4 linked regions of the Homo sapiens genome follow. The protein of the gene in region 3 interacts with the protein of the main gene of each other region in a biochemical or structural test. Each region holds a gene or a part of one and is shown on either strand. Other genes may lie near its edges. The genes, in order: FN1, FLT1, HSPG2 and PRELP.

Region 1 (7,025 bases), on a different chromosome or scaffold from region 3:
TTTGTGATTCTATTGTGTTTTTTCTAAAACCAATTGATCCTCTTAAGACAGCTTTCCTTTCAGAATAACACAACAGGATGTGTTGATCTTTTCTTTTTTCTTTTTTTTTTTTTTTTTTTTTTTGAGACGGAGTCTCACTCTGTCACCCAGGCTGGAGTGCAGTGGCGCAATCTCGGCTCACTGCAAGCTCTGCCTCCCGGGTTCACGCCATTCTCCTGCCTCAGCCTCCCGAGTAGCTGGGACTACAGGCACCCGCCACCACGCCCGGCTAATTTTTTGTATTTTTAGTAGAGACGGGGTTTCACCGTGTTAGCCAGGATGGTCTCGATCTCCTGACCTTGTGATCCACCCGCCTTGGCCTCCCAAAGTGCTGGGATTACAGGCGTGAGCCACCGCGCCCGGCCGATCTTTTCTTTCAACTTTTAGATATCTGTTCTCTTGAAGGCCAGGGCCCACCGCAGAACAGAATCAGGGCTGAGGCTAGACCAAAGGTACACTGAATTCAGTGCCTCCCTAAGTGCTGCTGAACACTAGAACCCAAAGATGTTCACAGACAAAGAATCCCAAGGTCAAACGTACTAGGGAGACATGGCGCCCATCCCCTACACTCTACCATGGAGAGTATGATGTAAAGGAACACACAGATTCTGCAGAGCAGGTTCCATTTTGTTTAACCCATTGCTTCTCAAACTTTTTTGAACAATGGAATCTTTTCAGTATTGGCAATATTCATATATAGCTAACATTTATTGAGTGTTTATCCCCATTTAATTCCCACCTACACTTTTAATCTATTTTGGTAGACTGACATTTATAATTTTTTTTATTTTTTATTTTATTTTATTTTTTTGAGATGGGGTCTCGCTGTATCACCCAGGCTGGAGTGCAGTGGTGCGATCTCGGGTCACTGCAAACTCCACCTCCCGGGTTCATGCCATTCTCCTGCCTCAGCCTCCCGAGTAGCTGGGACTACAGGCGCCCGCCACAACGCCTGGTTAATTTTTTGTATTTTTAGTAGAGATGGGGTTTCACCGTGTTAGCCAGGATGGTCTTGATCTCCTGACCTCGTGATCCGCCTGCCTCGGCCTCCCAAAGTGCTGGGATTACAGGCGTGAGCCACCGCGCGTGGCCGATGTTTATAATTTTTTTTGGCCAGTAGCAATTTTATTAATGATAATAAAATAACTCAAAGATATTATCAAATCTAATCTTGTTCACCTTCATAAGTGCTCAAAGCAAGACAAAAACTCATCAAAAGAAGAAAAATTAGAACAATTAATATTTTTAATTGAAGGATGGCTGAGACACTACGTAATGATGTTGGCACATCATATAGTAAAAAGTTAATCAAAACATATTAAAAATAATGAGAGGAGTGCACGTCCTTGTTGGCCATATTTCTCTCTTCAGATTTTTATGAAACATTTATGACGTAAAAATCTTTTTCTCATGCCAAAAATGATTAAAACTTGTTTTTTAAAAAGAATGCTTAGATATCATGTCTTTCATGGCCATCTCTAAGTCCTCTCTGAATTTCTAAAATTTCGAATGCCAATACATGAAGGAAATAATTGTGTGTTACTTTATAGAATGTAACAAAGTTTGCCAGAGCATAGAAACCACATATAAAGGATGGTTTCCACTACAAAAAGAGTTCAATGTCGGGACAGGGAAGTATATTTCATTCAAAAACAAACAAACAAAAAATCCAAATGCACTTTTTTTGTCCTTTCCTAGCAGAAGAACCAGGTAGTCATATAATTAATTATAACTCTCATTTCCTTTCAAATGAACTTTGGATATTCAAAATACGTGTGTGTGTGCGTGTGTGCGTGATCTATCCATGGTAAGTTTTATGATGCTAGCATTCTTTAAAACTCAGTTTTATCTTTTGGAGATAAATCTGGCTTTTTTCCCCCTAAGGTTTATTTGTATGTCATTTTTCTTTTTTTCTGAAAAATTTAAAACTTGACATTAAAAAAAGTTTTAACAACCAATAATGTGTAAATTATCTTAGGTTATTAGCTGAAACACTGCAAATTATCCTCAAATGGCATGTCAAAGGAAAGATGGATTTGCGGAAATATTTCTTGACCTGCTTCCCCATTTCCCGCCCCTGCTCGTCCTGTGCCTCACCGCTCGATGTGGTCTGCACAGAGGTGTGCCTCTCACACTTCCACTCTCCTCGGCCGTTGCCTGTGCAGATGCACTGGAGCAGGTTTCCTCGATTATCCTTCTTGCTCCAGGTGTCTCCAATTCTATAGGATGTCCTTGTGTCCTGATCGTTGCATCTATCTGTGTCACAAAGGAAGCACATACATACATCAGGTCGAGAGTCGCAAGTGGTCAATTCAAACTTAAAAAAGGAATGCTATCTATGCCTGGTAATCTATTTTTGGTAATATGTTCATATTCAGCTCTGGTGCTGCAAGGTATTACACTTCTGAAAGATGAAATTACATTTGTTACAGTGGAAAGGCAGCTGAATGGTTTAGTCTAGTTTCATCTCTCTGTCAAATAACATTTTCATTTATCTATTTATTTATTGTTTTCACACTGTTCCTTTGACTAACTTCATTCTCTGGCATTATATTTCATCTTTTTCCTTCTCAGGCTCTTCCAGGATTTTTCTTAGTCATCACTGTTTATGGCCTGCCTTTCAATAGGGACCTTGCTTTAGAAAACTAAAAACAGGCTAAGCGCGGTGGCTCACGCCTGTAATCCTAGTACTTTAGGAGGGTGGATCACCTGCAGTCAGGAGTTCAAGACCAGCCTGGGCAACATGGTGAAACCCCCGTCTCTACTAAAAATACCAAAAAAAATTAGCCGGCTGTGGTGGCGGGCGCCTGTAATCCAAGCTACTCGGGAAGCTGAGGCAAGAGAATCGCTTGAACCCGGGAGGTGGAGGTTGCAATGAGCTGAGATCACACCATTGCACTCCAGCCTGGGCGACAGGGTGAGACTGTCTCAAAAACAAAACAAAACAAAACAAAACAAAAAAAACAAGCAAACAAAAAAAAGCTTATAACAATGGGGAGGCAAGCAGGTATCAAAGGGTCTTCACCAATGGCTACAAAGAAGCTATAAGAAGGTGGTAGTATCTCTTTCTTCATTTGTTATGTAAAAAATGTAGAGGATGCACAATTTCTTTGACTAAAATATTATTTTCCCTTCCCCTATACCCAAACATCTACAGTATTTAAAAATCACTAGCAAAATAGCCCCAAATTATTCAGTGTTAGCCCTCCACTGGAAGAGTGGGATCAACATAAAATGATAATTTGTAACTAAATGACCATTAGTCTATGCGTGCATTTATCTGGTAAATAGATTATTTAAATTATAATCCAAATTTGCTCTGTGCCACGATGTGAGTATAGAGGATCTGATGTCTTTGTGAATTGGATATTGTTGCAACTCCTGGGTTAGAGAAAAAAAATTAATAGTTGATGTAGGTTCAAACAAATACACACCCACATCCATCTACCACAAGAATAGAAGTTTGCATGAAGGTATAATTACTGATTAGAGCTTTTTCCCAAATCCCCAGCGAAAAGTATTATCATCCCCTGAACCTCCATAGCACTACTTTCAGTATTTCTGTTGAAATCTTTAATACTGTGTTTTGCAGATGATAAATATGTATAAGACTTTCTCATCTCCCTGACCCCCTAAGTACTCTTTGAAGGCTGGGCTAATGTTCATTTCATATCTGCACCCCTATAATACCTTGAACAAAGTAAGTCCTTATAAAATTTTCTGGAATAAATGACTTCTCTTTGAGAAACTTTTCCCAACTTGCTATTTAAAGAGTTCTAAATAACAGATAAGGTTTGAATCAGACATCTAATTTGTCTTAAGCTAAAATATTGCCACAAAGATCTTGGAAGTCTGATGATCACAGTAACATTTTAAATGCAAAATATCTAATAAACCAGCAAGTTTCTGGGAAAGCTTTGGTCAAAATGGTTACCACTTTTCATGAGAGACCTATTTTTGTTAGCAAAGAATTTGAATTTGGATGATGGCTATGTTAAAGGTAGTTAAATGGGTTCAGCTAGATAAATAAAACAGGTTCAAATTATTTGGATTTGATTTTAAACTTATTTACAACACCAGTAGTTAATGGCTGTTTTACTTCAACAAACTCTCTAGCTGTTATTAGTTTACAATATCAAAAAAGGAGCCTTCAAACCCAAAGGCAACAATTAAGACCCCAAGACAATCTTAGAAGGAGCAGTAAAGACACCAGAGGCCAGCTTCTTTACAGCACTAATCAAATGCGTTAGGTCAGAGACACTATCCCTAACTCCAGAGTAGATAAATCATTTTAATTTATGGGATAAATTCTTTTTAATTTTATCAATTTAGCCTGTGAATGTGCCCTATTTAAATTTCAAACATAGAAGGAAACCTAAACCTTTTGTTCAACTCTATGTCAGTGGCAGTGAGCTGAGATTGAACCTTATCAAAGTGATATGTTTTTCTATTTATGTAGTCTTCTCTGAAGATGCGGAATAAGTTGGTTATGAAAGTTTTCTTGACTTCCAGAAGTTACCAAAGCATGCTGATATACTGGATGTGTTCTGAGTAACATAGTATTACCCTTCTCTCTAGGAATCCAGAAAACAATACCTGGCTTAATCTTTAACATAAAGATGTAAAACATACTTCTAGAAGTGCAAGTGATGCGTCCGCTGCCTTCTCCCAGGCAAGTACAATCTACCATCATCCAGCCTTGGTAGGGCTTCTCCCACGTTTCTCCGACCACATAGGAAGTCCCAGCAGCATGATCAAAACACTTCTCAGCTGTAGGGAAATTTGGAAGAAAAACAGGAAAAAAAGGTTATTTTGAATTGTGCAAGCTCCCTGTAATTTAAAGTGTAGTGTGTAAGCAAAAATTCAGCCACATTTTTTTTAAGTGGCACTCTGTTCAGAAAGAATGACACACCCAGCATCTAAGCACACAGTAAGTAGCCAAGGCAAAAGAAAGCTCAAGCTGAGTTGGCAGGCAGAAATTCCATTCTCCTAATAAGTACATGGACTACATATTTTCAGCGAGCCCCAAACTTCCCAGCAGCATTTCCAGTAGCAAGGATCTATGTATGTATCTAGTCTGTGGGAGACTACATATGCAAAATTCCAATCTTAATTATAAATGACCAATTATGAATTTTGAGTGGCCTAAATACAATGACAAAGAAAGCTATTTTTAAATATTGGAAAGCAAAACAATACAAAACAAGACAAAAACCTCTAAATTAGAAGACAAGTAAACAGAGTAAAATTTATAGCCAGAAACTTTCAGGCTTGTACTTACAAAATTCAACTGAGGATTGAGATCCAAAGAAGCTCAACAACTTTTAATTTGAAAAGAAATGAGCAGAGTGTGACAAGCACACACTATTTCATGTTTCGGTCCAGGACATTCCATATAGAAATGTGTCCAAAGTGTCATTTTTTTTTCTTTTAAATAAATTATATCTTGACGAAGGAGGAATCTGAGATCAGCTATTAGGTAAAAGAAATGACTCCATTCTAAATCTTTCAATTCTACCTTATGCTTTTGAAGCAAAGTTAAGACTTCTATGTGTAGTCAGTACTTTTTGATCTAACTCCTGTAAGAAGACTATGGATTATATAATAATTCATTATTTCAAACAAAATTCCCATTTCTTTATTGGTTTTCACTGGAATTCAGGTCTATGACCTATGTAGATGTGATTCTGGTCCAACCCCACATTAGAACTAAGCATCCCAGCTCTTGCTCAGCCCTAAGACTCACACACCTATGGGCTTGCAGGTCCATTCTCCTTTTCCATTACCAAGACACACACACTCTAACATGTAACCACCAGTCTCATGTGGTCTCCTCCAGGTGTCACCAATCTTGTAGGACTGACCCCCTTCATGGCAGCGGTCTGTTGAAGATACAACGAAAATGTTAGGAGAGGGCAGAACAGATTTTTTTTTTTGGTCTCATATTCCACCCATGGTAGGTACTTAGGTTGGCTAAAGTAGAGACACAGACAACAGCTTTCCCATCAGAGACAGGGGAAACGTTAACAGGTCTGGTCACTTGGAGTCAATTCAGTTAAGTGTCTTGCTTAGAACACAATGGAAAACCACAGAGAAATCTGGATGGCAAGGAAGAGGTCATGAATCCTGCTTTCCCAGAGAGATCACAGGAAATTGGGTCCTAAGCAGAAAAGAAAGGCTGGGAGGCTTGGTCTTCACTCATACACAGCAGGCTAAGACTGAGACTAATTCAGTGAAAAGGCCACATCAGGCACAGCACTCCAGCTTTTGGGAGCATGGAGAGCCTGTATTTTACCCTAGGATAGAAATGTCATTTTGGTGGAAAGCAAACAGACATATGCATATAAAGTGTGGAAATCCTGGTAGTTTTCTAAGTTGTTAAGCCCAATGGCACATTCAAATGCTGAACTAGATTGTAAACACTATGGACCCTTGCCTCTTGCGATTTGCCTGTGAACTTGGATAAACCCTAACATGAAATATGGGGAAAGTTGATTGGGCCTATTCACACGGGACTTGTTCTTTTGAATAGAAGTCTTTAAGACGACTTATATTTAAAGAATGGATTAAAAAACTTAAATACTATCTTAATAGAATCTATTGGTAACCCAGTGAATCATACTGGAAAGAGTGCCTTAGCTAAACTAGAGTTGAGAATCAGCCCGGTTCCCAAAGTTCCTTAGCAAACTCTATTGGGTTAATAATTTTGTATTATCCCTAGGAATAGTGACATCTGCTTCCTGGGTATAACCTACTGGTCACCAAGAAACCAGACTGTTTCTGTGAGGTGCAAGAGGTCTCTGCATTGCAAACATGAAGACCAGACAACACATGGCTGGTTCACTCTTCATGAACACCTTCCCAGTCACTGCAGAAAAGTCTCATGATTTGTCTAGCTTGAAGATATCCAGGTGATTTAAAATGGGCAACTCCCCTAAGCATGTCTTACTGAAATGGAACCCAAGAGGTCTCTTGGTTCTACTATG
Region 2 (7,025 bases), on a different chromosome or scaffold from region 3:
CCATCCCTGGGGCTGCTAGGCCTGTTTGGCTCCCACTCCGTGAGTGAGGCCAAGGTCTTGCATTCAGTTCCTGGGTGGTCTGTTTGTTTTGCCTGGATTCATACCTAGAAACTGAATTTCTAACTTCAGTTCCCAGCTAGAGCCCTTGAAAAGTCATGTCAGTGGTCAGGACAGGAAATAGGTAGGGATGGGTCAAGGGCCACGTGCCCCACTGCAAGAAAACACTCCCAGCATATCTGGGCCTGATGGGCTGAGGGGAGCATCTCTAAAGGAAAGAAGAACCTTGGCATCTTCCAAGACTGGGACTCTAAGAATCCATAAAACATCCCCTCTCAGGAATGCCCTGGTGAAAAGCGAGCTGTCAGATGGGGAGCAGAGGGCACCAAGGGCTCACATTTCAGGAGTAGAGTACTCAGGAGCTCTCATCCTCATGCCTTCCCTCAGGCGACTGCAAAAGTCCTCATCCATTTGTACTCCTGGGTATGGAGACCCACCTGCGGGAGACAATGTGGAAAACACAGGGCCTGTTATGGCTTAAGGGTACAAAAGACCAAGAGGGGACAATTCAGTGTTTCTTTCCTCCCTTTAAAGCTACGTTTTAGTAATAAATTCCCAGGGATTACAACAGATCTCAACATACCGTACAACACACAGAGAAGCTCAGCAAATCCTTGCTAAGGACACCCGCTTGGTTGGGTGGTCACATGGTGCGGGGCACCTGGTGCTCACAGGCTATTCCTATGGCTACTTCTGCCTGTGTGGTCAGAGGAAGGGGTGTCGTCTGAAGGGTCCTTGCCTTCTCCCCACAAGTAACTAAAGAAGTCCCATCATTAGAGACTCATCCTTTGGGTTAGTGAGCTTTTGTTTTTTTTGAAGAGACGGGTCTCCCTCTGTCACCAGGCTGGAGTGTGGTGGCATGATCTTAGCTCACTGCAGCCTCGAACTCCTGGGCTCAAGCAATCCTCCCACCTCAGCCTCCCGAGCAGCTGGGACTCCAGGTGCTCACCATCACCACACTTGGCTTGGGCTTCTTTTTAAAAAGCCAATAGACTTGGGATAGGCTACATAGGAATCATTCACACTTGAGTGGGAATGACTTTAATTCACTTTCTTGCAACCTTCCTATAGTACCAGGGCTCTAGGAGTTGTGACAGGCCTGAGGGAAGGGGGGCTTTGCGCTCCAGGGCTGGGCTGAATGGAGTGGAATGGGGTGGGGGCTGCCCGTGGCCAGGAGTCTGCAGACCTAAGGGCGCCAGAGAGGCCTAGGCTTTGCCTTCTGCCAGCTTTACTGCCCAGGATTCCCCTGCAACCTTTCCTTTTGGGGGGATTCTTGCCAGGGCTGGGGGTGGCAAGGCCTTCTAATGCACTCTTGCTCTAGCCCTGCAGCCTCATCTACCTCAGCATTTGTTTGTGTGCATTTTCTAGTGATTACTGCTGGTAGGAAGCAGCTGGGAGGCGTGCAGTGCTGGCACCGTGTCATCGCAGGACCACTGCAGCCGCCAAGCTGCTTTCAAAGACTGGAAGCAACAGGTGCCTGTCATCGAAAGCAGGGGAATGATTTTCACACATTACAGGAAACCAGGGATGTTACTGGGTGACTTTTATTTGCTGTGAAAGGCAAATTTTTGGCAAAGCCCAAAAGACTCTTGGCGAGAACTTGAGTTTTAGAGGCCTCAGATCATCACTGTGTGTCTGCAAGCAGATGTGGGCTCTGCACGCATCTGTGTGCTTTGAACAGGACTTCCAGCCACCCATAGTGGATGTTATTGCAAGCAGAATAAATACAACCAGTGTTGTTTATTGCTTATCCTGTATAAACCAGTGTCCAGAGCCATATCATGTGTTCATATCAGAGGCACTGGAAAGGTCTCCTGTTTCTAACAACACCTTCCTCGCTGGGGCAGCTGAGCTTGTTATGGCCTTTCCTAGGAAGAAATTCTGAGGTGGTGGGAGACGCGGGGAGGGAAGCGGTAAGGGCATTAGAGGTGTGGGTGTTGAGGAATTGGAAAAGGACAGAATTGGGCAAAGTACAGAAAAAGTACTTTGCTTCAGACTTTATACCCTTGTTCATGATCGTATAAAGCCCTTTTACATGACCTTGTTCTGACCTTGTTCATGATCATATAAAGCCCTTTTACAGTAGAGGGCAGACATGCGTACGCCATTACTCATCTGAGAGTCTACATGGGCCCATTACACTTTAAGAGTTTTTTGTTACAGTAGGTTCTAATCTAAAGGCTGTCTAACCAAAGGACATTCAGCAGAAGATGCAGACATTTATTTCTGGGCTGTTTGATTTCTTCCTTCTCCCAAATTTACCTAAGGAGAAGATTTCCCACAGCAATACTCCGTAAGACCACACGTCGCTCTTGGTGCTGTAGATTTTGTCAAAGATAGATTCAGGAGCCATCCATTTCAGAGGAAGTCGAGTCTAGAAGAGGGCAAGGGGGCCTTGAGCAGAAGGGCATGAAAACAAAGCACATTCAACCCGAGTGTCCATGGGGTCACCTCCCAGATAACATACGGCCTATAAATCATTTCCGAGAGCAGCTCTGGTTTCCTAACATAGAGAACACCATAGTATGCAGTGTTACGCTAAAAGAGGGAGCTAGAGTGCTATACTGAGTCCCATGAAGGCAGTATATGTTCAGTAAGCCCCTCTGATGTGTTCAGCATGTCCTTATCTGCATAGCTCTGTGAGAAATCCTCCCCCACAAAGAAAGCCTGCACTCCACAGGGACACACTCAGGGCTTGGAAAAGGAAAAGAGTGATCTGAATTTGAAGATATCCTGAAAACTGGTGGTGGTTTCCAAAAATTTTTCCAAAGGAGGATTTTGAAAGCATTCCTATGCAAAAAGACAAGATTTCCAAAGTCACTGAATAGGGAGAGTGTGCAAAAGCATCAGAAAGAAGAGAAGAAGGAAAGAAGTCAGTGTTGAAAGAGAATATACAGTTAGTTTTCAAACATGTAGACAAATCTTCCTCTCTTTCAGATAGCAGGAATCCCAGTGAGTTAGGCCTCACCACTTTAGATGATGGGGATTGATGGGAGGTATGGGATAAAGGAGAGACAAGGAGAAAGGAAGTGGGAGGGGCAGGGAGGCTGACTCAGATACAGACGAACAGAAAGGAGGGGAGGACTAACATGAAGGTTGGTGCCATCTCTCCAGACCAGGGCCCCAAGGAAAGTCTGTTTTCCTTTATTTTTATTTTTTTATTTTTACAAAGGATCAATGTGAAGTCATATGTTTTCCTTCTATACAACAGATTCTGGTGCAGTGGCTCTCGAAGTATGGTCCTGGGACATGCTGTGTCAGCACCTTCTAGAACAAACATGTCCAATTCCTGGCCCGCGGGCCACATGTGGCCCAGGACAGCTTTGAATGCAGCCCGACACAAATTCGTAAACTTTCTTAAAACATGATGAGATTTGTTTGCATTTTTTTTTTTTTTTAGCTCATCAGCTATTGTTAGTGTTAGTGTATTTTATGTGTGGCCCAAGATAATTCTTCTTCTTCCAATGTGGCCCAGGAAAGCCAAAAGATTGGACACCCCTGGTCTAGAAACTGGTTAGAAATGCAAATTCTCAGGCTCCACCCAAGAGTTACTGACTCAGAAACTCTGGGGGGTGGAAGGCTTGTTAGGCCAGCACACTGTAGCGTAACAAGCCTTCTAGGTGATATGTATGTTCAATTAAGCTGGGAACCACTACTGTAACTCATTGGCGCCCAGACATAAGCTTAACCCTCAGGGTATATAGGCTGAGGGTTAAGGAGAAGGGAGGACATGGGAGGTCATCCACAAAAGTGAAAAATAACACTATGTCTAAAAACAAGCAGGGAAGAGAAGCCAGTACGAGCCAGCGGGGAGATGCTAGGCATGGAAGGCCATGGGAGGTAAACAGTCTCCTCCATAGTCAGCTACTGCTGACGGTCTTCCCCGCCCTTTCCTGAGACAGATACACCTGCTGAATCAATCATCTGGGTTTATTTGAGGGAAAGAGTCCAGGCTGTTCTTTTCAGTGGTACAAGGAATTCCCTCAGGATTCAAAGGAAGGTAATGCTAAGGTCTCACCCAGGCCCCACCAAACACTTCTCAGGTTAGCAAGTCTCACGCAGCGCTGCCCAAAGGACAGGTGGGAGGCCAGGCATTAGGGAAGAGCAGAAGCAGGAGACAGTGGCCTTTCTGAGCCTTACACAAGGGCTCTCTGGGATGCCGCTCATCTGGACTGTTTGTCTTCACAGAAAGCCAATGATGGTTTTCAGGGACTACAGCTGAGGAAGTGTAAATATTTACCAAGTCTGTGGTTTAAAAGTGATAGGACACACATGAGTCAAATAAACATCAAACTGACTTACATCTCCTTTTCTCACATAATCGGGGTTCTTATAAATATCCCGGGCAAGGCCAAAATCACAAATCTTCACCACGTTGTTCTCAGATAAAAGAATGTTTCTCGCTGCCAGGTCCCGATGAATGCACTATAATAAAACAGTTGCATAATCAATGCATTTCCTTAACCTAACCAACTAATTTCCTACACCTGTCAGTGTCATTATCTTAATTTGGGAATCCATTTCACATGCTGTGAAGGGAGCACCTCTCGGTGCACACAGAGTTACCATAAACATGAAGAGCCTCTCTACAAATACAGGTCCCCAAGCCCTCAAAGTCAAGAAATGGTCTGAATCCACTGGGCTACTATTTGATCAGCGAAGCTGGTTATCTAAGATTTACCAGTGGGCAAACTTTCCCCACAGTCTTTTATCCTGAGCTGCCAAGATGAGATCTTTCTCCAGCTGCAGTTTTGTGGGAGGGCCCTATATGGCTATATTAATAGTAGCTCTCCTATGAAGTCATGTCTTCTGAGATTTGGGCCAGATTTGAAAATATGCCAGAGGATACTGTGGAGAGCCGATGCCAGGTTTGTCTAGTCTGAAACCTGTGAGTTTTCCCCAGAATTAAGTTCTATCCACTGGTATCCATGACTCCTCATTCTCAAAACTCCTCATATCAAGGCAAATTAAGGCACTTGCAGTGGTGTTTGTTCTACATTTAAGAACATAGGTATCAGCAAATACTAGGAAAAATGAATTTATAGCAAAGGTGTGTGTCCAGCCCTGGCAGAGAAGAAAAACAGTAAACAGCAAGACTGACCTTTCTGGAAGACAGGAACTCCATGCCTCTGGCCACTTGAAAACTGTAAGAAATCAGATCTTCCATAGTGATGGGCTCCTTGTAGAAACCGTCAGAATCTGGAAAGCATTAGAACCGTAACTGTTTGTAATGGCTCTTGTTATCCCACCAAATCCCAGTTTATTGGAACAATGTTAGCAAAACATAAAACAAACCAACAAGTAGATCAGAGTTCATTTTTAAGAGTATTTGAGTTTCAACATGAACACCAGAGATTTTTCCAGGCCTCCAGCCCACTTTATCCAAGCATGGGGGCAGGGGGATGATCCATTAAGATGAAAATCCCTGAGGGGAGAAAACGGTACAGTTCCCTGTCAAAATTAGTAACTCTGTAAATTATCTTAATTCAAATCTTATCTCCTCAGGACATTACCATTCGAGTCTCCCACGGATGTTTATTAGAGTGATAAATAAGAAAAAAATTTCAGAGATGCATAGTATGTTGTAAAAATATCTCAGCGCGTAGGACAGGAAGGAATTAATACCTACCCTCCTCTTCCTCAACATCACTCAGACTTTTATCTTCCTGAAAGCCGGAGCTCGCAAAGCTTTCGCTGCTGGTGACGCTATCTAGTCTTGGTTTCTTGCCTTGTTCCAGGCCTGGCTCCATTTTTTCTTTCTTAGGCTCCATGTGTAGTGCTGCATCCTTTGAAGAGACCGAAAAGGACCCAGGTGAAAAGGAGCTCCAGCACAGCAGTGGGAAACCAGTCCCTCAACTGGCAATCGCCTGATGAGAAATGAGAGCGTTTCACTTCTCAAAATGGATCGTGAACTAGCACAGGGGCCCTACGGTGTCCAGGAGCCTGACTACCTCTGGAGTTGCAGAGTCTATTGTGCTCTTGCCTGGGCTTCTAGACAGCATCTTAGATCAGATAAAAAAAAAAAATTAAGAGTGGTGGGTATTTACTGAATGCTTACTCTGTGTGAGCTGGTATATTAAAAGCTTTAGGTACATTTCTTGTTTAGTGTTTCCAACAATTTTACGAAGTAGTTCTTATTTATACATGGAGAAACAGGTTCAGAGAAGTAAAGTAATCAAATTCACATGCAGCTAATAAATAGCAAAGCTGGCCGGGCACAGTGGCTCACGCCTGTAATCCCAGCACTTTGGGAGGCCGAGCCAGGTGAATCACGTGAGGTCGGGAGTTTGAGATCAGCCTGACCAATATGGAGAAACCCCGTCTCTACTGAAAATACAAAATTAGCCGGGCATGGTGGTGCATGCCTGTAATCCCAGCTACTCAGGAGGCTGAGGCAGGAGAATTGCTTGAACCCAGGAGGTGGAGGTTGCAGTGAGCCGAGATCACGCCATTGCACTCTAGCCTGGCCAACGAGAGCAAAACTCCATCTCAAAAAAAAAAAAAAAAGCAAAGCTTGAACCCAGGATTGGTCGATGCCCACATCTGTGCCCTTAACCACTTTTCCATGCCACACGCCATCTTGTGAAGGATGACATCACTGAGAGGAAAGGATCCTCAGTGTGCTTGGTGCTTCACTCTGTAATCCCTAGGAGGAGTTATAAGAGAAGGCTATAGTTACCAATTTCTCAGGTTTCTTTGGGGAAGGAGGGAACATGGACATTGCTTTTTTTCTCTTCCATTTAAACAAAGATACAGTTTGATCCTAACAAGGGTAGCAATGGCCTTTCACCCTGGACTGCACATCCAAGCCCTGGTTCATTTGGCTCTTCCATTAATCATGCGATCTTGGGCAAGTCACCTTACTTTTCTGAGTTTAATTATCCTCTTCTGAAAAGCTCTATTATACTATTATTTTATGATTCATAGGAAAGGAGTTGTCAGTTCTGGGTGTTCATGGGAAACCAGAA
Region 3 (7,025 bases):
GCATAGGGTGGGGTGGGGTGAGATCCCCAGGCCTGTGTGTCTCTCTCTCCTGAGTCCTGCTGTTTCTCTGAGGCCACGGGAGCCAGATTTAGAGTCGAGCAGCCCCACATCCCACCAAGTAAGGACCAACTGCAGGTTGGCCCAGAGCTCCCCAGGCAAGGTCCTGCCTCCTCCAGTGTAGGCCAGGGGGGGACAGGGCTAGGATGGGGTCCCAGGACATCCCCCACCCCCCCCACTGTCACTACCCTCAGGATGCACGAACATCCTTTCTGCACCCATGGGAGCCCCTGGCCACACCTCCTGTTGCTCAGAGCCCACCAACTGCACACATCTGGGAAGGGGACAAGGCGTCCAAAGACTCCAGCCTTTCCCAGGCCACACCCTGGGGTGTGCCCCCCTCCTTCTCCCAGTCCAGGAAGGAGCAATCAGGGTGGAAGGATGGACTCTGTCCTACAGCTGCGGCCTCGGTAGGCGAAGGAGGGGCAGTGACAGATCAGAGGCAGTTACACCCGGAGCTCTGAGACTGCGAAAGAGGCCCAGGGAATGGACAATCCCCTTACACAGCCATTCATTCAACAAGCCCAGTACAGGACCTGGGTCATAGAGAAGGCGTGCCCGGCTGTGCCCTGGGAACCCTGCCTCAGATATTCCACCGGCCTTGTCTTTAGCAGGAACGAGACTTAGTGCAATCACGGATTGTCAAATACCTGCCACATTCCAGGCACTGAGCAAGGTGCATCCACCTGGTTACTTCATAACCACCAGGAAGCAGGCCTCCCCATTTCACATTTGACTGAGGCTCAGAGAGGTAAAGCAACTTGCCCAAGGTCACAGAGCCAGTCAGGGCTGGGCCAAGACTTGAAGGCAGGGCCTTTTGAGCCCACATCTTTCCCTTGACCACAGTGCCCAGGGAAGTGGCTCTGAGACCAATGAGGACACAGACAAGTCAAAAAGGGCAGAGTGGACATCCCAGCTTGTCCCACATCTTCTGGGGCCCTGCAGAGAGCATGGCTGGGCAGGCAGCTCCCAAGTGCAGGGGCCAGAGCACGCCCCTTTCCAATCTCAGCAAGGAGCCTGGGCCTTCTTGGCCTGCTGGCTTCCTCAAAGCCATTAATTTGCTCACTTGAATTTGTTTGTTTGTTTGTAGTTTTGAGACAGAGTCTCGCAATGACGCCCAGGCTTGAGTGCAATGGCATGATCTCAGCTCACTGCAACCTCCGCTTCCCAGGTTCAAGCGATTCTCCTACCTCAGCCTCCTGAGTAGCTGAGACTACAGTCATGCACCACCACACCCGGCTAACTTTTTTGTATTTTTAGTAGAGACGGGGTTTCACCATCTTGGCCAGGCTGGTCTCGAACTCCTGACCTCAAGTATCTGCTCACCTCAGCCTCCCAAAGTGCTGGGATTACAGGCGTGAGCCACCGCGCCCATCCTTTATTCACTTGATTTTTTTTTTTTGAGATGGAGTTTTGTTCTTGTTGCTCAGGCTGGAGTGCAATGGCGCGATCTCAGCTCACCACAACCTCCGCCTCCCGGGTTCAAGTGATTCTCCTGCCTCAGCCTCCCTGAGTAGCTGGGATTACAGGCATGTGCCACCATGCTTAGCTGATTTTTTTATTATTATTATTTTCAGTAGAGACGAGGTTTCTCCATGGTGGTCAGGCTGGTCTCGAACTCCCAACCTCAGGTGATCCGCCCGCCTTGGCCTCCCAAAGTGCTGGGATTACAGGTTGTGAGCCACTGTGCCCAGCCTCACTTGAAGTTTTAATGTGTTCACCTACTATCTGCCTAGCACCAGGCAAACAGCAATGAACAAAGCCAAGTCCCTGCCCTCATGCAGCTTCCACTCTAGATGAGGGGGTAAGAATAAATCTACAAGCCATGAGCTCCGGCTGTGGAGTTCTAAGGCAGAGTCTGCAACTCCACAAATGAACACTCAGCAAGATCCCCTCCGCCTACACCATAAGCCAATGCAGAGGCCCCAGCTTGGGTGGGGACGGGGGAGCTCCTGGCTGGAGATGGGTAGGGGGATGACTGCCAGGCATGTGAGCCAGTCCAACCCCCACCCATGCTGTCCCCTCCATCACTTGCCATTCTTTTTTCTTTTTTTTTTTTAAGAGACAGGATCGCGTTCTATCACCCAGGCTGGAGCGCAGTGGCAAGATCATGGTTCACTGCAACCTCCACCTCCTGGGCTCAAGTGATCCTCCTACCTTGGTCTCCCAAAGTGTGGGGATTACAGGTGTGAGCCACCACTCCTGGCCCACCTGCCGGTTTTTTTTTTTTTTTTTTTAGGAATTTTTATTGTCCAAACAAGAGATCGTAAGAGAAGACACAAATAAATTAACTGTTCTGAGAATTCTGGACTCCACCTCCTGCCCACTCCTCCTGGAACTTTCCCATCTCAGGTAGTGGCAGCTCCATCCTTCGGGATGCTGAAGCCAAAGACTGTGGAGGCATCCCGGACTCTTCTCTTTCTGTCCCGCCCCACATCCAACCCACTAGCAAATCCTGGTGACCCATCTTCAAAATGTACTGGGGATTCAACCATCTCCCACCTCCGTGGTCCTAGCTTGAGCTCCCATCGTCTGTCCTGGGTCACGGCCTCCTTGCCTTTGCTCTGGACCCTCCCCGTGCTCCTCTCCACACAGCAGCCAAAGCAATCCTATGGAACACCGGGCCCCTTCAGTGACTTCTCAATTCACTCAGACGCAAATCCAAGGTCCTTCCCATGGCCAAAGCTCTGCTGATCACCCTCTGCCACCCCCCTGCCTGCTGCATCCACCATGCTCCCCCTCACTGATGCTGCTCCAGCCCCACGGGCCTCCTTGCTTTTCCACAGACATGCCAAGGACACTCCCACCTCTGGGCCTCTGCACTAGCTGTGCCCTCTGCCTGGAATGCCCTTTCCATTGATATCTGCGAGGCTCACCCGCTCACTTACTTCAGGTCTCCTTCAGTTCAAATTTATCTTATCAGAGGCTTTTCCTACCACCCCACCCTACCTACCCCGCCTCATCACTCACTGCCCTCTTCCCTGTTTTATTTTTTCTTCTGAGCACTTATCACCACCTGATGTATTTCATTTATTGTCTGTCTTCCTGCACTAGCTATAACGCAAGTGACATGAGAGGAAGGAATCTGACATTTTTATTCTCTGCGGTAACCTCAAGATCTAGAACAGGGCGGGTGCAGTGGCTCACGCCTGTAATCCCAGTGCTTTGGGAGGCCAAGATGGGTGGATCACTTGAGGTCAGGAGTTCAAGACCAACCTGGCCAACATGGTGGAACTCCATCTCTACTAAAAATACAAAAATTAGCTGGACGTGGTGGCGTGTTCCTGTAATCCCAGCTACTTGGGAGGCTAAGGCAGGAGAATCTCTTGAACCTGGGGGGCAGAGATTGCAGTGCGGCGAGATCATACCACTGCACTCTAGCCTGGGTAACAGATCAAGACTCCATCTCAAAAAAAAAAAAAAGATCTAGAACACAGTCAGATACATAGAAGATGCTCCACAGATATTTGTGAAATGAATTTTAAAAAACGCTTAATCACATACATCATTTGTTCATTCATTCATTCAACACACTCTGCAAGGCTTTGCGCACCAGATACTCCCCTAAAACCCAGAGCAACAGGACACCCTCCTTCATGGCTCAGGGAATGGGCCCTGGTCAGGAGCTAGGAGCTGGTCCTAAGGCTATCTCAGGATGCCACAGATGCCTCCAGGGATGCTCTGAGGTTCCTGCAGGCCTGGCACAGATGAGCATCATGGAAGGGAAGGGAGAGTGGTTCTGGGGGCAGCAAGACTCAAAGGCCTCACATTCCCAGGCCTCAAAGAGCCACCTTGTTCTCAGGGCTTTCATGACAGCACCCCCGACCCGGCCACCCCAGCAGCCACGAGCCACACCCCTCTCAAGGCTGCTATTGACACAGCCCTGACGCCACCAGGCTGGGCAGTGAGGCCGGCGGCTCCCCGCGAAGTGAGTTCCACACATACTTCTGGGTTTCAGTCAGCCAGCTCTGGGTGCTGGGGCAGCTGGCCCCGGGAGCAGGAGGGGGTGGCAGGGCCAAAGAGGCCAAGGCCCAGGCGGAAGCAACATTCCAGCAGGGCCGGGACCCTCGGCGCAGCCTCCCTCTTCTTGGCAGGAGCAGGAGCGAGAGGAGAAAAAGGCCAGGGTAGGCCCTGGGACAGGGAGAGGTAGGCCCAGCAGATACTTGGGAAGCTGCCGGGGAACCAAGTCATATTCACTTCCTCCTCCAGTCTGACCCCTCATAGCTGGGACTGGATTGGGTGAAGGGGAGGGGGGCAACAGGCCAGGGCTGGGAACCCTTCCCATATACCCCAAGTAGTCTGAGGGTGCAGAGCCCACACCTCTGGCCTCCAAGTGGCCTCTGAATCATTGCTCCAGATCTTTCCATAGCCTGGGCAGGCCCTCCTGCCCTCCCTCCTGAGCCTCTCACCCCAAGGCCAGGCAGCCCTTGAAGCTCTGCAGACTCACCCTAAACCTTGAGCCCCCAGGGAACAGCCAGAAAAAAACAGCGCAGGCTCCACACAGGACAACCAGGAGGGTGTTCTTCCCCTTCCCCCACTAGCAGCATGGCAGGGGCAGGGGCCCCTGACCTCCCACACTGGGCAGGGCCAGCCTGGCCCACTCAGGCCTAAAAGTCCCTGGATAAATTCAACTGCCTGTAGAGTCCCAGGAAATATCTGATGAGAACATTAATGAATTAACAAACCTAAAAATGACCACCCTAGAGTTCCTAGGCTTCCCCTCCAGGCACAGGCGTCCCTAGGAGACCCCACGGACACTGAGGCATACCCAACCTAAGAGCTTCTGTCCCCGAGCCAATCCCTGATATTCCTTGCCTGAGGTAGCCCCTGTACTACTTGGGACCAGAGTTCTTAATCAACATCTGTGACAAGTTGTAGCAATATCTACTGACTGCCCACGACAAGCACATGGGGCAGTACGTGGCGTGATTAGGAGAGCTTCGTCTGGATTCAAAACTTGGCTTGCAGCATCTCTGAGTGTGTGGATATGTAAGTCACTGGGCAAGTTACGTAACCTCTCAGTGCCTCAATGTCCTCTGCTTAGAGAATGGGGATCAGGCTAGTAGCTACAGCTTAAAACATTCGACAAAGATATTCACTAAGCACTTACTACCTGCCAGGTGCTAAGCATACAGCAGTGAACAAAAACAAATGAGGTCCTGCTCTCGTAGAACTTAAACTGAGCAGGAGGAAGCAGATAAACACATAAACAAATACAGACAAATACAGGCCAGACAATTGTGAGAACAAAAATAAAGCAGTTTAAGGAGACAGCCATTATGGGAAGAGTGGTAAGGACCAGAAAGAGGGAGAGGGTCATATGGATATTACGGGGACAAATGTCCCAGGCAGAAGGAACAGCAGACGCAGAGACCCTAAGGTGGGAGTGTGTTTCACATGCTCAAGAAACAAAGCCTTGGTCAGGCGAGGTGGCCCATGCCTATAATCCTAGCACTTCAGAAGGCTGAGGTGGGAGGATAGCTTGAGTTAAAGAGTTTGGGACCAGCCTGGGCAATACAACAAGATCCCATCTCTATTTGTTTTAAATTTTTATATTCATTAGAAAAGAAAAGGCTGGGTGCAGTGGCTCACGCCTATAATCCTAGCACTTTGGGAGGCCGAAGGGGGTGGATCATTTGAGCCCAGGAGTTCGAGACCTGCCTGGGGGAACATGGCAAAACCCTGTCTCTATAAAAAATACAAAAATTAGCCAGGTGTAGAGGAGGGTGTCTGTAGTCCCAGCTACTCAGGGGGCTGAGGTGGGAGGATCACCTGAGCGTGGGAGGTTGAGGCAGCGGTGAGCTGTGATTGTGCCACTGCACTCCAGCCTGGGTGACAGTGTGAGACCCTGTCTCAAAAAAAAAAAAAAGAAAAGAAAAAGAAACAAAGACTGGTATAGCTGGAGGAGTTTGAGAGGAGCAGGTGGCAGGAGGCCGGGTGTTGCAGGGCCTCGTAGGCTATATTAAGTCAGGGGCTGGGACCTAATTCTGAGCACCGCAGGGAGGTGGTGAGCAGGAAACACAGGTGAATGGGAGGATTCACTGAGAAACTCAGAGCAGACAGTGGGTACTGGGTAAGTCTGAAGTACCCGTATTACTGTGTCATCATCCAGCCTGGCACCCCAAGAGCTCCTTCCCCTCCACTTTGCTCACCCGTCTTCCGGGCCCTGAACCCAGTCACCTCCTGCCACCTTCTTTCCACCGTCTCCCGGGCAGGGCTTCAGACCCACAGATCCTAACTTGTCTGCGCTCAGCCTGAGAGCAGGCCCGGGCCAAGCCAGGCAGGGGCCACAACTCCCCAGACAGGGGGAAATGGGCCTAAGGGATGGGGGGGTGGTCCATCTCTGCCCCTTCCAGCTTCTACCCTGCAGACAGACCTGCAGCCTGCCCTCCTTCCCTCCGGGAATGTCCAGGGCACACTCAAAACCCCATCCTGTGCCGGCTGCAGGTACGGAACAAGTAGGCTAGTGTCAGGTGACAGAGCAGCTGGCTGCGTGGAGGAGGGCTGAGGGACCGCCAGGAAGGGGAGGCTCCTGCAGTTCAGCTGGCAGCCTCCCCAGTGAGGAAATCCAGCTGAGGCAGGAAACAGGTATCTCAGCGACTTCCCTCCTAGGCCCTGGAAAACACCTTAATCACCACCGAGGCTCCCTCAAGACGCCTGTCCCCTGCAGGGCCGCCCTAAAGGGGTCAGCAGGCCAAGGCCTGCCGAGTCACCCAGGCCCAGCCCCCTCCTCCAGCAAGCCTCCTCACCTCCCAACAGCTGAAATTACACCCACACTTAATCACAGATCAGCTTCCTGTGGTCCTGTCCCCCGTCCCGGGGAAGCCTGGAGCTCCCTAAGGCCCATCTCACCCTGCTGCTGTGCCCAACCCTTCCCCATAAGCCACTGGCTCCGGACCAAACTGAAGGGCAGATGAGAGCAAGGGTAGCAGGCAAAGAGGGTCCAAGGTGTGCTGGGAGCCTGGGCT
Region 4 (7,349 bases), about 180 Mb from region 3:
TAACAAAGGAGCCTTATGGGGGCATGATGACTTCAAGATGCCCCTTTCTAGGAAGGTGAAACGATACAAGGATGAGCTTGCCTGGGGCAGTGGGAGGAGAGCCTGTGGTGCATACTAGTTAGGAGAGAAGATTCTCACCCCTCCACCACTACCTAGTGATGCGAACCCTGTTCTGGGCCTCAGTTTTCTTATCTGTAAAATGGGAATAAAAAAATCTTCCCTATACCTATATTCCTTACCCAATTGTCAGAAGCAAGTGCAGTTAGCAGCTTTAAAATGCACTACAGATCAAAAAGTGCTAAAAATAAAAATAACACTATTATGGAGAGACCATCTGTCTCCCCAGTGTCTACCACAAGGCAAAGTGTAAACAGAATGAAGATTTTCTGGCCTCAGGCCACTAGTTTAGAAGAGAAAGTTTTCCATTCTGAGCGGTGGGGAAGAAACCAGGGTGAGACGACTCTTCTCTGACAGCCCGCCACCTACCATATCCTCTGCCCCATTCCCCCAGCATCTCCAAGCCTTGAAGAAAGCCTAGAAGAGTGTGTCTGATGCCTTGAGTGATTATAGATCTGAGACCCAATCCTGCAGTTCTTCATTCAGATGCTTAGCTAGGTAGGCTTAGGCAAAGCAATTGCTTTTCTGCTCTATAAAATGGGGATACTAACACCTTCTTTTCTGTTTTGAGGGTTAAATGAGTTAATACATGCAAAGTGAGTGTTTTCTGAATGTTAAGGTCTTGTTGATATTATTTCAAAGTAATGGGGTCTCCTTCCCTCCAGCCTGGCTAGAGGGCAGCCCCCATGCACTGCTCGAAGGCAGGGATCCTTGTGAGTGGGGTACCAGCTCTTCCACACAGAGCAACTTCCTCCCCTTTGTGGCTTGTGAGATCACACTTGGGTCTCAGAAACAACTAACTGAGGAGACTCTGGAAGTCCCCAGCCACCTAGGGAAAGCTTGTTCTGTCTTTCTAATTCACCAACTTCTCACCGATGCTTTCTGCAACAGGTGAGGGGACACTGGCCACAGAAGGTGCAAGTCTGCCTTCCTCAGTGGGCCATGGAGTTCCACTGCGATTCTTGACTTCTCCCAGCTTTTTGCCCCTTCCAGCCTTGAAATGCTTCACTCACATGCCCAATAAATGGGATTGCCCACTAGGGAGGTGGAGGGGGCATGAAGAAAGTGTTCAGCTCACCCTCTGTGAGAGCCCAGACAGGTGGCTGCTGGGAAGGAGGAGCAGGGACCTATAAGGGTCAGGGGAAGGGCCCAGCACATGCTCCTGGGGTCCTGGGGCAGGCAGATTAACAGGTGAGGGGAAACAGAAGCTCTGTGGAGCCATCTTGGGGGAACTTTCTTACTGGAATGTTCCTCTGTGGTATATATGGCTGCTTGTGCTTGCAAGGAGGAGAGAGGGAGACAGCTCTTCCCTGTTTACTCCCACTCCCCAAAAAAGAGGTGGCCTATTTGGGACACTCTGGTGCTCCTTTTCCAGGACACAGTCCTTCTGCCCAGCTAACACTGCCGGAGTCTTGGGCTTAAAAATTACAGCAAAGCTCTCTCTCAGGCCCCTGATTCTCGAGCCCTGGTGGACCATCAGAATCTCCTGAAGTATTAAAACAAGATTCCTGGGTCTCGATTCAGTAGATCTGCAGTGAGAGCCGACATCTGTATTTTTAGTAAGCCCTCCACACTCCTCCCTCTCCAGCCCTTAGGTGACTGTGAAGATCAGCTGTGTGTGGGACCCCTGATCTCCCTACACCCCGCCTGCCTTGGGACAGACCCTCTCTATTAATAGAGAGGAATGAGCAGGGGAGCAGGAGAGGGGCCGCCCTTCAGTTTTCCCCTCCCCAACTGCTTAAGGAACTGCTGCCTTTTTTTTTTTTTCTCCTCTGCCACAGGACCTTTTGCCAACCTAAATGGTTGGAATAATTTCAGAACGGCTTTAAAGAAAAATATTTTTCTGGCTGCCTGCAGGAAAAAAAAATAAAAAAATGAACTGTCCCCAGAGCTGGGAATTAGGACCTTCAAGGATTGGGAACTGGGTCGCTTTCTTCTTTCTTTCCAAAAGCCAAGTGGTTTGGACCAGTGAGACAGAAATTGAAAGCTGCTGAGAAGACACTGTGCAGGTTGGAAAAAGCCGTTTTTCTCTCCCTCCTACCCAGTGAAGCCCTAAATAATGAAGAAACCCTTCCAGCTCCCGCTCTTGCTTATCTCCTCCCTATTCGGCCTGGACTTGGGATGCAAGATTTTCTTCTGGCTCTGCCATCTCAGTGGGAAAACGTACTTTATCTTTGCTCTTACAGCTAGGGAGGTGTGTGTGAGAGGGCGAGAGACAAGATGCAGGGAACATGTGTGCATGCATGTGTGTGTGTGTCTGCTGGTGTCTGGTGATGATGTGGTCTAGCTCTGCATGTCAGATGCAGAGGGCAGAGGTGAATGGACAGGATGTCTTCATTTTGTATGGTCGTGTGGGGTGATGGTAGTGAACGTGCAGCCTCCGTGTGATGTGTGTGACTTCCACAATGTGTGACAATACACAAAAGGTGCAAAGAAATGGGTTCTGGAGTCCAGTTTCTATGGAAACACCTGATCTGTAGAAACACTTTGTGCAGCGTGGCTCTCTGTGCTACAACAAACATCTGCAGCAGGAAAGCTTAACTTTTGCAGTAAGCAAATATAGGGGTACAGAGTGATGAAAAGAAAAGGAAGAGGCTATAGGAAAGAAGTTAGGAAGACTAAATTTGAACTCATTTGAGAGGAGAAAGAGGTGGGAGGAAGGAAGGAGTGAGAGGATAGAGACTAGATCAATAAATGGACAGAGCTGGAGGAAACTTACTGGATGAAAGATTCTTCCCAGTCTCCTGCCCATCTCCCAACTGGGCTTACCTGCACACACCTGCCTCTCCTCTCAGCTCTGAGTTTAGTCCTCCTCTTCCACCCCCTCCCTTCGGCGGAGCTGTGGCAGCAGAGAGCCAGCTAGAAGATCTGATCTCCCAGTGGTGTGTGCGTGCTTGTGTTTGCCTGACTTTTCTTCCACCAGATCCTATTGGGGTGGGGAGGTTAGCTTGGGGGGAGGGAGGGGCAGATCATAGGGAGGGAGGGGAGGAGAGGAGGGAGGAGGGAGGGAGGGGAGGGGAGGAGAGAGGGAGGGAGCTTGGGAAAGGAGGAATGACAATAAAGTCTTTATTTGGCAGCCAAAACTCCCAAAGACTTCATCCACACACCATTCCCACTAACAGACTCATTTTTAATAACATTTCCTTCTGCTGCTGCCGCTTCTGGAGAGGGGTTGTTTGACCCATGTTTGGAAAACAAGCCAAATTAACAGAGTGAAAAGGCATGAAAAGCAACCTCTGTGTAAGCCAGGACTGGATGGCTGGGTCCAGCACTAGCCTGTTTAATTCCTCCTAACAATCGCCTTGCCTTCTGGGGCCGTTGCTCGGTAGTGTTAAATTCCTAAACCAGTGAGGGGTTTGGGATGCTTCCTCTGAGCAGTGACAGTCTTTCCCTAAGTTATCTTCTCCAGGAGGTTGCAAAGGGAGTGGAGTCTCAGGCTGGCATAGGAGATAACTTCGGTTTGGCTGCCAGGGCTGTTCTGAGAACCAGAGAGGGAGAAGTCTGGCCTGAGTTGCACAGCAAAGTTAAGGCAGAATTAAGATTTAATGTAAGACCTAAAGTCACTGTTCCTAGCTCATGTGGACAATGTAGTGGCTTCTTTCAGCTTCTCCATATCACACTTAGGTGAGATTTAGGGGCTGTGTGGTCATCACACAAAGTGATGGGAAATCCAAATTTCCCCTGTGCACATCAACACCCCAGAAGACCCAGTCAAGTAACACCACTACCTCTAACAATCCTCTAACAATGCCCCTCAATTAAGAAAGCACAACACACTTGCAGGTAAGTAGATGCCCATCAAAATTTCCTGCCATGGCCAGGCACAGTGGCTCACGCCTGTAATCCCAGTACTGTGGGAGGCAGAGGCAGGCGGATCACCTGAGGTCAGGAGTTTGAGGCCAACCTGGCCAACATGGTGAAACCCTGTCTGTACTAAAAATACAAAAAAATTAGCTGGGTGTGGTGGCGGGCATCTGTAGTCCCAGCTACTAGGGAGGCTGAGGCAGGAGAATTGCTTGAACCTGGGAGGCAAAGCTTGCAGTGAGCCAAGATCGTGCCACTGCACTCCAGCCTGGGCAACAAGAGCGTGACTCTGTCTCAAAAAATAAATAAGTAAATAAAATAAATAAATTCCTGCCATCCCAGCTGACTACTTAGAAAATGCAACGCAATTTTCTTCTCCATTATTGGTTCCATGGAGAGCTGCAGAGCCCCATGACAGGGGACTGCCTGCCTGCCCTCCGCAATATGGGGTAGAGGAGAGAACATTAAAATTAGGGTCTGCAGCCCTGGGCTCAGCCACCCACAAGCTATGGTCTTAGGTGAATCACTTGATCATGAGGACCTTCAGTTTCCTCATTTACAAAATATGGATAATATTGACCTCACAGGGTTGGGAAGATTAAATATTGTAAATGTGAGAGCACTTTATAAACTGGGAAGATATTAGGGTTTAGGAAAGGGATTGCGATGAATGGTAATTAGCCTAAGAAAAGGAGAAGGAAAAATAAAACCCAGACCTTTCTCCAACCCCCTTCCACCCCAGATCTCATGGCTTCACGCCCTGCTGGTGAGGTCTTGCTGGAAGACAGCACGGTTCCTCTCCAGGTTCACATTAACTGTGGCTCTGCCAGGCTGCTCATGTGCTTCATTTCTCATCCAGATGGGATATGGCGTCTTCTGCAGGCCGGGAACATCAGACGCCAGATTTGCTTGTTTCCCTTGGTATGGTGGGTGGTAGATGATAGAGGGCAAAAAAGACTGGCTGGGCACGGAGACTCATGTCTGTAATCCCAGCACTATGGGAGACGAAGGCAGAAGATTAATGGAGCCCAGGAGTTCGAGACCAGCCTGGGCCATATGGGGGGACCCTGTTTGTACAAATAATTTAAAAATTAGCTGGGTGTGGTGGTGTGTACCTGAAGTCCCAGCTACTTAGGAGACTGAGGTGAGAGGATTATTTGAGGCCAGGAGACCAAGGCTGTAATGAGCTATGATTACGCCAGTGCCCTCCAGCCTGGGTCACAGAGCAAGACCCTGTCTCAAAAAATAATAAGGTGAGCAAAGTACAGTGAGGTACAGGGATGATGGGTAGAGTGTCTGTGGGGATAGACAGACTGGAAGGAGTGTGGAGTATGGGCAGGGGCAGGGGTGTCACCTGTATCCATTTGTATGACAGCCATCCAAATCCCAAGAGTCTATGCTCTCGGGAATGGATGGCCAACTTCCAAGCCCTGCCTAAGCCAGTTATCTCCCTTCCTCCCTCTCCTATCTCCCGCATCCCACGCTATGCAGAGAGAATTGGAAAGAAGTATAGACATGGCCAGCAGGATATTCAGGAGTGTCCAGAATAGAGTTTGCTAATCAGTGGCTTGTGGACCTAATATGGCTTGAGTACCTAATTTTTTTTGACAGCACGTTAATTTTTTAAAAGTTTTGTGGAAATTTTAAAACGTATACATATTTACACAGTATAGTATTAATATCCCCATTATCTAATACCTAGCTTCAACAATTACCGACTCATGGCCAATCTTGTTTCTTCTGTGTTCCCCACTCCCACAAACCCTACTGGTATATTTTGAAGCATTGGTTAAAAAAAAAAAAAAGGATTTGAACACCTTTAGTCAGGACAAGCACTTCCCAGTTCAACACAGTCGCCATCCTGGTAGACAGGGGTCCAGGTTCTTGGGACCTGGCTTTGCCCCATTGCATGCTGTGTGACCTTGAAGATGTCTCTCTCCCTCTCTGACCTCAGTTTGCCATTTATAAAACACGAGGTTGTACCAAATGACCTCTCAGTGCTCTTCCAACAATACTGTGAAGAGAGAGTATAAGGTTTGGGGTTAGGAAACCTGGATTAAGATGTCAACTCTGCTGTTCTCTAGCTACCTGGTGAGTAGGTCTCAGCACACGAGCCTTGGTTTTCTCATCTGCCCCATCTCCCTCCCAGGGTATACCCAAGATAACACAAGGATCATTGGCAGCAATGGCAGGGGAGTATTTTGTGATTCACTGGCTTCATGCACCCTGGGACTATGTGGATCCTCCAGGAAGAGCCTCCTCTACTCTCCTAGAGTCTCAGGGACACCAGTGGTGTGTCTTCAACCCAGGGGAGGTATTTATCTCTTGCTGGTGTAGCCAGAGAACAGTCACAGGCACATGATGTGAATGCTGGGGCATATGGTGAGAAGTCCAGATATGCACATTGTTGCTGCTACTGCTGCCTGGTCCTAGGAGAGGGCTAGGGGCAGCATGGTTAGGAGACAGAATGCAGGGAGGGCCAGGCAGCAGAGGGAGGGGGCTCTCCAAGTTGGTGGGTTTCAGCTGCATTTGCAGAGTTGGGACCTGCCCACACTTCCCATCCAGACCGAAATCCATCTGGGGGGCTTACCATTTCTTTGACCCTCACAGTAATTGCTGCCTTGGTTACAAGCAGTGAGTGCTTAAAGCAAGAGAAGAAAGGACACAATTGTGTAATACTCTTTCCATAGAAGTACAGGAGGGAGGTACTCAAGCTTCCCACCTCCCCCGTGGTGGTCCTGAGACTTTGCCGGGAAGGAGCAGTGTGGGCCCGAAGAGTTTGGCTCAAACTGCTCAGTGGTCATCAGGACCCACAGAGGCTGGCCCTGGACGGACCCTCACCCTGTACTAGTTGAGGCTCCCAGTCCAGGGTGGGTGGGGTCTGGGCAAATGCATAACGGGGGAGAAGCTGTGTGAGTCCTGTGGCAGCCTGTCCCACCCTCCAGCCTGGGGGGCCTGGGTTGCCTGGGGTGAGTGGGCCCCTGCTGGGCAGAGACAGCATCCTGTTCATCATGGTATAACCCACAGCACCCACCAACGGCTTGGCACACCCTGGGTGCTCAGTAGGGGTCTGTTTCATTGAATTTAAGAGGGTTGAACAAGGAGATTCTCTGTCACCCTCTTTTTTTAAAAAAAGGTTATTATTTTTTGAATAGGTAATACATTCTCTTGATTGAAAATCTAAGAGGTATAAGAGCTTGCATAGGGAAAAAGTCTTTTCCCTTGCCTATCCCCTCATCACTCACTTTCCCCCAGAGGACCGTGCGCCAGTTTCTTGTGTCCTCACAGATTTATTTAAGGTACACACTAGTAACAAATAAGCAGCTATGCACTTTTATTTTCACTTAGTGGTACAGGTATCTTTTGAAGATGATCATATTGGTCCTTTTGGTGATTCTTTCTCTGCCCCCACCCCCCAATATTTATTT

Evidence for each region.
Region 1: the proteins of HSPG2 (region 3) and FN1 form a complex in vitro, tested with the Homo sapiens proteins (one study listed by BioGRID).
Region 2: the proteins of HSPG2 (region 3) and FLT1 form a complex in vitro, tested with the Homo sapiens proteins (one study listed by IntAct).
Region 4: the proteins of HSPG2 (region 3) and PRELP form a complex in vitro, tested with the Homo sapiens proteins (one study listed by BioGRID).

Annotation. Positions count from the first base shown.
Region 1 is NC_000002.12:215,426,044-215,433,068, forward strand, and holds part of FN1 (fibronectin isoform 1 precursor), read right to left. Parts: intron 5,922-7,025; coding exon 5,790-5,921; intron 4,810-5,789; coding exon 4,672-4,809; intron 2,296-4,671; coding exon 2,137-2,295; intron 1-2,136. UniProt on the Homo sapiens protein: Fibronectins bind cell surfaces and various compounds including collagen, fibrin, heparin, DNA, and actin. Fibronectins are involved in cell adhesion, cell motility, opsonization, wound healing, and maintenance of cell shape.
Region 2 is NC_000013.11:28,317,104-28,324,128, forward strand, and holds part of FLT1 (vascular endothelial growth factor receptor 1 isoform 1 precursor), read right to left. Parts: intron 5,844-7,025; coding exon 5,687-5,843; intron 5,257-5,686; coding exon 5,159-5,256; intron 4,483-5,158; coding exon 4,360-4,482; intron 2,432-4,359; coding exon 2,320-2,431; intron 1,816-2,319; exon of another isoform or gene 1,426-1,815; intron 495-1,425; coding exon 395-494; intron 1-394. UniProt on the Homo sapiens protein: Tyrosine-protein kinase that acts as a cell-surface receptor for VEGFA, VEGFB and PGF, and plays an essential role in the development of embryonic vasculature, the regulation of angiogenesis, cell survival, cell migration, macrophage function, chemotaxis, and cancer cell invasion.
Region 3 is NC_000001.11:21,927,308-21,934,332, forward strand, and holds part of HSPG2 (basement membrane-specific heparan sulfate proteoglycan core protein isoform b precursor), read right to left. Parts: intron 1-7,025. UniProt on the Homo sapiens protein: Integral component of basement membranes. Component of the glomerular basement membrane (GBM), responsible for the fixed negative electrostatic membrane charge, and which provides a barrier which is both size- and charge-selective.
Region 4 is NC_000001.11:203,471,476-203,478,824, reverse strand, and holds the start of PRELP (prolargin precursor), read right to left. Parts: upstream 3,020-7,349; 5' UTR 2,887-3,019; intron 1-2,886. UniProt on the Homo sapiens protein: May anchor basement membranes to the underlying connective tissue.